Regions from separate parts of the Homo sapiens genome. Here region 2 is linked to region 1. The links come from fine-mapping of genetic effects on gene expression. A gene starts in region 1. The other region holds a variant in brackets. All regions are shown on one strand. Distances are between the middles of the regions.

The links. PIP is the estimated chance that this variant, and not a neighbour inherited with it, causes the effect.
Region 2: its variant is the best candidate, but not a certain one, in a credible set for the expression of NAA11 in tibial nerve (GTEx, PIP 0.65).

Annotation. Positions count from the first base shown.
Region 1 is chr4:79,323,578-79,328,829 of GRCh38, forward strand. NAA11 (N-alpha-acetyltransferase 11, NatA catalytic subunit) reads right to left here and starts at 2,484. Exons shown (of 2, transcript NM_032693.3): 1 at 1,599-2,484. The coding sequence starts at 2,300. The coding sequence ends at 1,611.
Region 2 is chr4:79,214,570-79,219,821 of GRCh38, forward strand. All of the region lies in intron 4 of LINC01088 (long intergenic non-protein coding RNA 1088), which reads left to right. It also overlaps a transcript of NAA11 not described here. Among named protein-coding and RNA genes, the nearest start is that of NAA11, 110 kb to the right of the region's middle. The variant T/C (reference allele first, on the strand shown) is at 2,897.

The DNA of each region.
Region 1 (5,252 bases):
TGGGAGGCCGAGGCGGACGCATCACGAGGTCAGGAGATCAAGACCATCCTGGCTAACACAGTGAAACCCCGTCTCTACTAAAAATACAAAAAAATTAGCCAGGCGTGGTGGCAGGCGCCTGTAGTCCCAGCTACTCGGGAGGCTGAGGCAGCGGAATGGCGTGAACCCGGGAGGCGGAGCTTGCAGTGAGCCAAGACAGTGCCACGGCACTCCAGCCTCGGCGACAGAGCTAGACTCCATCTCAAAAAAAGAAAAAAAGATACAAAAATACAAAAATTAGCCAGGCGAGGTGGCGGGCGCCTGTAGTCCCAGTTACTTGGGAGGCTGAGGCAGGAGAATAGCTTGAACCCAGGACGTGGAGGTTGCAGTGAGCCGAGATCGCGCCACTGCACTCCAGCCTGGGCGACAGAACGAGACTCTGTCTCAAAAAAAAAAAAAAAAAGTACAGTAATTGTTTTGGCTCTTTAACTTTTCATGCTAATTTTCACACATTCGAAAGAGTAAATGGCATAAGGAACCCCCTAAGTACCCATTTCCCAACCCAACAATTATCATTGCCATTCTTATTTCATTTTCCCTCTTTCAATCTTTTTCTTCTTTTTTTGCTGGATTATTTTAAAGGAAATCCTAGGCATCCTATTATTTCAGCTATAATTATTTCTGTATGTATCTTTAACAGATAAGGACTTTCTAAACATAATACAATACCATTTAGCTCCTCTAATAAAATTATTAGTAATTCCTTAATATAGTCCCCGTTCAAATTTTGCCTGATTATCTCAAAAATGTCTTATACATGGTTTGTTTGAATCAGTATCCAAACAATGTCCATAGCAGTTGAGTTTAATGTATCTGTAAAGTTTAACAGAAAATGCTTCATCTTTTTTTGTGTGTGTGCCATTTATTTGTTGAAGAAACCAGGTCATTTGTTTTGTAAAAACCTCTCATTCTGGATTTGGCTGTTTGCATCATGGTATAGTTTAACAAGTCCCTCTATTTTCTGTAAAATGGTAGTCAGATCTCATAATTTTCTTTTGGAAAGAATATTTCATAGGTAGTACTGTGCACTTCCTGTTGCATAAGGAGACACATATTTGTCTCCACGTTTAGTGAAGACTGACTACACTGACTTCAAGTGTTGTCAGTCTGATCCATCATTACAAAGTGCTCCAACTTTTACCTAATGCTATTAGCCATTGATGACTCTTGGCTGGGTCCATTATTTCATCAAGAGTTGGAAAATGATGATTTTATATTTCTATCATTATTACTAACTGGAATTCCATAAAGAAAAAAATGCCTTTCATCAACTACGTGGTTACCCTGAAATACAACTCATGCCCAAAAAGCAGGATAAATGCTTGTTTCTTCATTGAAATTAATCTACTTTCAGCATGAGCTGGTATCCTATTTAACTTCCAATAGCGTGTAATGAGTCTCCCTCAACTCACTCTAACTTCTCCCTAAGGTCACCAGGTGGTTTTTACCGTAAAATCTCGCAGGGCCAGAATGGGGTAAGACAGGATGGAATTGGGCAGGCCAAGGCAGGATGCAGGGATTTAGGAGAAGGGGGTACTGGGTCAGGGAAGACAGAATACCTTAAGCATGCTCTAGGAGGTGGAATCCGAGCTTTCTGAGCTGTCCTGGACGTTGGTGCTCTCCACAGACTCCTTAGGTTCTTTGCTGTCACTGCCACTTTCTTCGGTAGCCGGGTTCTTTTGCTGACAGGCCTCTTCAGAATCAGAAAGTGTGCTGCCCTGGGTCTCCTGGTTCTCCCTGGAGCCCAGGACCACATACCCGCCCTTCTTCAGGTCCATTTGTCGTCTCAGCTCATCTGCCATCTGCGAGAGATCCCGCTTCATAGCATAAGCATCTTCCCCATCTGCATAGTATTTAGGTTCCACCTCACTAATCTGAAAGTTGAGGGTGTTAGAATAAAGGTGCAAGGCTGGCCGGTTACTCTTCCTGACGTGCAGAGACACGTATTTGGCGTTAAAGTTCTCTATCATGGCCCTGGAGGCCTGGTCCATCAGCTTCTGGGCCAGGCCGAGGCGCCGGTGTGAACGCTTCACGGCCAGTGAGGTGATATGGCCATGCGGGACATCATCTGGTTCCTCCTCCATTTTGGCCAGAACATAGCCCACAATCTTCCCGTCCTCATCCTCAGCGATGTAAGAAAGCTGGGGCCAGGAAAGGCCATGATATAAATAGTATTTCATCTGGTAGTTCTCAGGAAGGCAAAGGAGGTTGCAGTGTTGCATATTCATCAGGTCGTCTGGCTGAGCGTTGCGGATGTTCATAATGGCAGAGGGTAGGGAACCGGTTGGACTGCAGTGAACCCAGAAGAGGCTGTCGCCGACCTTAAGGGGCACTGTTTGCCTCAGGAATCGAGTCCAGGGGGCTAACACCACCGGGCTGAATCGTGTGGAGGGCGGATGGCGGGAAGGCGGAAGGAGCAGGAGATGGAAAAGATGGTGCCAAACTGCGGCTTTCAGAAGTGCGTCACTGATCCCAGCCAATGAGGTTTCGCTTCATTGTGCGTGTGCGTGCGCAGGGGTTAGGGGGTGGGGAGAGAGGAGTTCATTGTGGTCGCCTTTGTTTTAAATAACGCGATCCATTGCAATTATTATTTTTGTTTCAGTTTTAACTTTTTGATTTGGGTACATCTGAATAAATTTTCACAAACTGGAGAAACCCATATAACAGGAACTTAGAGAAAATAAAGAACATTGTATCCCAGAACCCCCCCTCCTGTCCCCTTCCAGTACCTGCTTCCAACATCCCAAGAATAACGATTACCTAGACTTCCGACAGACTTTATATAAATGGAATCATAGTGCATGCATTATTTTTGTGTCAGGTTTTTTCAGTCACTCTTTGTAAGTTTCAGCCACCTCGTGTATAGCTGAGGGTTCTTTATATTCTTCCTTGTTTGATATTCTATTGCCTAAATATGTCACAATTTTTTTTATCAATTCTACTGTTACTGGCCATTTTGTCATTTTCAGTTTGGGAATAGTACCCCTAGGGTAGCTGAACATTCTAGACTTGTCTTTAGTTGGAACAAATGCATATTTATCTAGGATTAGAATTATTGGGTCATTGAATATAATGATGTTCAACTTTTATAAATACTGCCACTTTTTCAGAGTGGTTGCTCCACCTTCTCAACAGCATTTGCTATTTCCCCATTGTTTTTATTTTAGCCATTCTTTTGTAGGGGTAGAAGTATTACACTGTGGTTGTATTTGCATTGCACTGATGAGTAGTAAAGTTGAGCACTTTATATGCTTATTAGCCATACTGTGTTCTCTTTTGTAAATGGCTGCTCAGATTTTTTTGCTCATTTTTCTACTTGTGTGTCTTTTTCACATTAATTTTTGAGTTTTATCAAAAATATATTCTGGGTATAAGTCCTTTGTCAGATATATTTGTAATGAATATCATTCTTGTCTATTGATTGATATTTCCCTTTCTTAATGGTGATTTTTGACACCAAGCATGAATTTTAATATAGTTCAATTTTTCCAGTTTTAAAATTTGGTGGTTAATGCTTTTTGTGTTCTGTTTAATAAATCGTTGCATACTCCATGGTGACTGAAGGCATTCTTTTATATTTTCTTCTAAGATTGTTAGTTTTACATTTTATATTTAGATCTGCAATTGACTGAAATTTAGTTTTGTGTATGCTGTAAGGTATCAGTGGACCCAATATTCTTTTCCTGTGTGGATGTACAATTCATATAGCACCATTTACACCATTTTGTGAAAAAAGATTATTATCCTTTCTTCATATTACTGCATTGTTACCTTTGTCATAAATCCTAAGTTTTATTTGTAGATGCATTTAAAAATTTTAATGTCATCTTAGCTGGGTGTGGTTATTCATGCCTGTAGTCTCAGCTACTTGGGAGGCTGAGGCAGGAGGATCACTTGAGGCCAGGAGTTTAAGGCTGTAGTGAACTATGATTGCATGACTGCACCCCAGCCTGGGTGACAGAACAAGAAGAAGAATAAGTAAATAATCATATGCCATCTCGATAAAGCAAGATTTGGGGTATTTAATAGTGCAAGGAAGTCACATTTTATTAGCACTACTTGCACAAATGGAATTATCTGTGTGTCTCGTACAGTCTTTCTTCCCAGTTTCCTAGCAGACCTCAGAACTCAAGTACCAAAATGAATTATGTTGTAATTAGCCAGGTCATGGATACCCTCTTAACTCATCTAGAATATGTGTGCAGCTTTCTTTCCAATGAGGGTACGCACTCCTTTAATAGCTAGAGTAACCTAGAGCCATGTGATCTGTGAAACATAGCTTGAATAGCCACTATTTTTGTTGTATTTTGACAATTGGCAGTATCTATTAATATATTTTTAAGATTTAACGTAAGCATTTTAGCTCCCTGATTTTTTGATAGGCTGTATACATTGGAAAAGTTATTCACCAGTATTATTTCCGTTCAGAAATTTCTTTCATGTTGTGCCTGACACCATGGATGGGGATCTATAATTTGTAGTGATGTAGCTCTAAAAGCATGATCCAGAAGAGTCATTTTGTTGATTCTTCTGTAGTGGGTTCTTCTTTTAAAAAGCATAGACTATTGAAACTTGAGTGCACTGTATTCTTTGACAGGGTTAATTTAAATGCAGCCAGGTTCATTACAGATACTATATCCTTCAACATAGAATAGTGCTGACTTAATGCTCAAGAGTTGGGCAGTATACTTGACTTATTCCAGAGTAGGCATGGTACCAAAACCAACAGTAATAAGCATGGTTTTTAATATACAATAATGTGATCTTTATTCATATAAAATCGTAGAAGGAATATGATGACAACTCCACTGTCATGGAAGAATGGTCTACCAGTTGCAATGACCACAGTAGCTAAGACAAAAAATGCAAAAACTGGTTATATTCTGATAGGCTGTCTTCTTTTTTGACAGAGAAGTTGCTATCATATATCCTCAGCATTTGCATATTCATTTCAGCTGCAGTGGAAAGCATGGATCCAAAACTAAAACTCTGACCCTTAAGGTGGTGTTGGTAGTAAGTAGTACTTAATTTGGCCCCTCCTACTGAGGTCAAGTATAAATGTTCTCTCATGAATTACAATGTGCCTCTAATTTCTGGACTATCGATCTAGCATGTCTTGTCAAGTTTTGTATGTGGTATGTTTTTATCATAAGTAAAGGGCATTGGCAATCTTCATTAATATTTTGCAAAAATTTAGCAAAAAGTCATCTAAT
Region 2 (5,252 bases), 110 kb before region 1:
TGGGCAGATCACAAGGTCAGGAGATCGAGACCATCCTGGCTAACACAGTGAAACCCTGTCTATACTAAAAATACAAAAAATTAGCTGGGCATGGTGGCGGGCACCTGTAGTCTCAGCTACTTGGGAGGCTGAGGCAGGAGAATGGCATGAACCAGGAGGCAGAGCTTGCAGTGAGCCGAGATGGCGCCACTGCACTGCAGTCTGGGCAACAGAGCAAGACTCCATCTAAAAAAAAATAAAAATAAAAATAAAAGTCCAACTTCAGTCCTGTCTTATTTCTCACCCTCTCTTGCATTTCTGCCTTCCACCAGGGAATGACACAGCAAGAAGGCCCTTGCCAGATGCCACCCCCTCAATCTTAGACTTCCTACTCTCCAGTACAGTGAGCCAAATAAATGTCTGTTCGTTATAAATTGCCCAGTCTATCATATTCTCTTATAGCAGCACCAACAGACTAAGAGAGTGTATTTATTTCCTTTTGCTGATCATGAATTTCTCATATTGTTCATCAAAGTCAGTGATAATTTTCTTCTAAAAATTATTTTTTAAGTGATACTAATGGTTAATTGTATAGTACCTGCTCTTTTCTAAATATTGTTCTTACCAATTTACACATATTTACTTAGTCAATAGTCCTACTAAATAAGGATTAATATGCCTTGTATTACAGATCTAGAAACTGAGGCACAGAGACATTGAGTGACTTGTTTATGTTTGCAGGGTAGTTCTCTGGGTAGTCTTGGGCCAACCAGTTCCCTCCCTTTCCTTACTGGAAGTTCTCAAGAATAACTGTAAAATATGCTGGGAATGCAAAATCCTGAGAAAAGAGTAGACTGGCCAGAACAGCCAAGGCTCTATTCCAGTCCCCCCTAAAAAGAAGATGTCCCTGAATGCTTCATCCCAGCAAATCATGTTATCCTGGAGTGTAAAACCCAGGTTGGGCTGCTTTCTGGGTTTCCTCAGCTGTGGTACAAGTGGACCATGAAAAAGTAAGACTCTATCCACCCCAGGTAGTTTTCCTGAGCCTTCAGGTATTGATTCACAATTGTCGCTTTCTGCCTGCTGCATGTAACCTGTCATCTATGTGAGTATTCTGTCTTACTGGATTTAGGCAAGTCAGTAACCAGTAAACAGCAAATCTGCTTCAAAATGCTCATGTAGCTAGCATGACTTGGACTTGAATACAGGTAGTCCAAGTAGTCAAGAACTATAAAATGAGGATAATAGTAGTTCTTATCTCATAGAATTATTGAGTGAGGATTAAATAAATGAATACATACAAATTAGAAAAATACCTGGCAAAGAATGAGTATTATACACCTTATCTCTAAGTATTATTTTTAGAATGTATTTTTAGAAGAATTATATTATTAACTATTATTGACTTTGGTAAACCATAACTATTACAGATTCATAATCATCAAAAGAAAATAAATACACATGTATTTCATTCTCTTAAGTACTCTGTTCTATTCTTTATAATCATTTATAAGCACAAATAATTTTATTTTAAAAATATTATCTCAATTATGTTTACTCTTTATCTCAATTATTTTACTTTTTAAGCTGTATCTAGTCCTTTGGGGAGCAAGGTAGGAGATAAGTGAACAAAAAATTGTGTACTGTAGAAAAGTTGGGAACTATGAGTAATAATGAAGAAAATAAAACCATCCAGAGTCCCATTTTCTAGAATATCTGTTAATATTATTATAGTTTATTTATTTGCACATTTTTCCTGAGCTTGCTTTTGTATGTTTGAGATCATAGTATATCTCCTTTACTCATTTAATATTATACTATAAGCCTGTGACCCAGAACATCTCTTACATTATTTTTAAAAGTCAATACATTTTGAAAGATTTCTTTTTGGTGGGTAGAGTCAAAGTTTATTTTTTAATTAAGACTATCAATTAGCAAAACTCTCTTCTTTAATAAATTCATCAAATGACTGAAATGGTATTATATACACTTGATATTTGTAGAGGAGGGCTGAGTGACATTTTTGGATGTCTTAGGCTGAATTTCCCAAAAAGTATCTTAAATAATATTATATTTTCTAGATTTATTCTTTGAAATGACATCACTAATCATTTAAAAGAATAGTCTATTATATTGACAGCAAATAAAAAGAAAATCTATGTTCACTGTCACTAGTTTGTTGACCACCTCTTGTGTTTCTTACCAGAACTTGACTTCATGAGCTTCCTATTCACCTAAGGAGTGGTGGATGGCTGGTAAAATTGAGTATATGCCCAAGCCAGTATTGATGGAATAAAAATGGCTTCAATACAAGGCCTCTATTAACATGTATTCTGTTTTCCTCACAAATTTATGGAATTTTTCCACCAAACATATGCATATCTGAAATTCAAATTGAGTGCACCTTACCTCATGCTCTCCTCCGTACCTCTAATGAGGTGGAAAAATGTACATTAATGACAGAAAGTTATTTAGTGCTGAACAGAGTTAATTGCTTCTAATCACTGCTTACATCCATGTGGTTTTATGGTAGACAACAAACCTCTTCATTGGGTTTGCTCATTAGACATATTGTAAATCACAGAGATGCACTGGCATCTTGCATATTGTGCTTCTATTAGTGAGGCAGCATTTTCATATAGCCCCAGTGGCAGGCTTTGGGATGCAGATCAACTTGTCTGTGTTCTGTTAGAACTGCAGGGAGTCCTGGTGAACTGGCCTCCTAGGCTCATTTGGAAGGCAATGGAAAGCTACTACCTATCAAACTCTAGATGAAAAGCTGTGAAAGAGCTGCCAGAGACTGGGATAGCAGATACCTTTGCCATGATTTTAGGTGGTAATATTGGTGACTATCTCATTTTCCCCCAAAAGCTTGGGGTTAAAACTTCCTTCTACTACTATTATTTGGCAGAGTAAA[T/C]AGAAAAAGGATTGTATGAACAAAAAATCAAGGTTTAAAACAGAGGTAGATGCAATCTTTAATCTTGTGTCTAACACTAATAGCTTCTTAAATTGTAAAGAGTCAAGCAATGTTTTATCAGAATTTTGGGAAGATCAAAGGAAAAATATAAGCACATGAATTATTATAGTGAATAGCTTTATCATACCAAAATTACACTTGAGCTAAACTAATTAAGATGCTGTGGTGTAACTGTGCCATTAGCTGATATCAGTTGATGATAAAAGATTTAGAAAATTCATATGGGAAGTAAGACCTGCAAATTTTGTGACAATGTAGAACATTTGACAGGATATTATAATTACCATAATATCTTACATTGTAGGTAATTTTATCAGTTAAACAAGAAATAATCCCTAAATCTTAAAAGAGAGAAGAGGAAGAAACAAAGGGAGGGAAGGAAGAGAGAAGGAAGGAAGAAATAATACATGTGTAGAAGTGTCTGATATTACTTTTCCTTTTTTGGTGCTTGCCTAATTCCTTCCCATTAAGGTAAATGACTTTAGAGGGAGGTAACTAAGTCATGAAGGGTGCAGAATTTAAAACTGAATAGTAACCTAGGGATTATCTGGTAATATATACTCTCCTCATTTCATAAATGACATAACTGAGGCCCAGAAAGATTGAGTTGTCAAAGATAGGTCAAACAGTTACTTTCATGGCAGCAGTGGGGTAAGAGAATACAGATCAGTATCATGTGTCCTCACTCAGCTAGACATCCATTAATTTGTAATCAAAATTAACAATATAACTTAAACATGTATGTAATGTGCTCCCCACCTTCATATTCCCCATTTTTGTACTTTATTTAGGAAAGAAGGAAGTGACAAATAAGTTAGTTTTTTTTTTTTGGTTGGAAAAACAATTTAGACAACATAGTCTATGGTGACTATATATTTAGCTGTATTTTTACATATACAACTCCATAAAATACTAAAAAGCTTTCTGAGTCATTAAAGGTTTGTGAATTTTGAAGTACATTTAGGTCTAATTTAAAACCTAATAAAACCAAGAGTTATTAAAATTGATAACTCACATCTGTCATATATGATAACTATTAGTCCAAATACTTTATTACCTATCAGGAGTATAAAAGTGAAATTTCACCATAGTTCAATTTTTTGGAGTAATTATCCCAACCTCAATTCCGCTATTTTTTAATATTTTAATGTCTAGATTGAAATGGATTTCTATGTCTTCTTTGCTTCTTCTGTTACCTTTACAATTGAGGTGTAATTGAATAAAATCAACCTGATTTCAAATTACTTTGGAAAGATTTTCAACATAGCTACAATCTTGGTCTCAGGATTTTGCTTAGATTCTTTAAGGATCAAGAGATGTATATGCTGAATTCAATTCATATCAATGGTCTTCTTTTAATTCTGTACTACCATGCAAAATTTTTGCACTTTAGCAAAATATTCAGAGATGTTCACTTTTATTACACCTTTTTTGTTGAAAAATATTCACAGTATATACATATATAATACATGATATATAACATATATACACATGTAAATATAGAATTAAATCATTAAGAAACATATTTATAAATGGGTTATGCCCTTTTACTTTTTTAAGTCCCTACAATATTTTCTTTATAATCTGATTTGATTTGACTTTAAATTGAAACAAGATTTTAAAAACTGTTTTGGAAGTGTTTTTTCTCTCCTTCCACATCTTTAGCATTCAATATGAGTGGAAGGCCAATATGAGCTTGGTCGATTGGATGAGGGTTAAATGAAGAGTAGTCATTATTTCCATTGCTTTAATTATGCCATCCTCACCATGATGGACCTTGCTCCATTTCCCTCCAGTAGACCTGACAGACTATAACTGACCTAATTGATACCAGATGACAGCTCAAATAAGGCCTAATAAAGAAGTAATCACACTGATCTAATGAGCAAGCTGTTATGATATTGGCTTATAGAAAGCTGTTTTTTAATCCCTCCATTTTTCTTTTATTATCCGTAACCACTATTCTCAATCTCCTTTTCTGTGATTCTAGAATCGAAGGACTAAAATGGACCTTAGGGGAAACATAAGCTTGATTTCCTGTTATTTGTGCTATATGATATGCATTGACATTTTTTTCAACTCTTAAATATAGAAATGCCAAACAAACTGAAAAGTTGAAAGACTAATACAATGATCACATATATACCTCCATTTCACATTCAGTCATTATAAATATTTTGCTATATTACTTTGTATTTATATGTATATATACATTTTTTCTGAACCATTTGGAAGTAAGTCACATGTATCACAACACTTCATCCCTGAATGAATATTTTCAACATATATTCCTTTA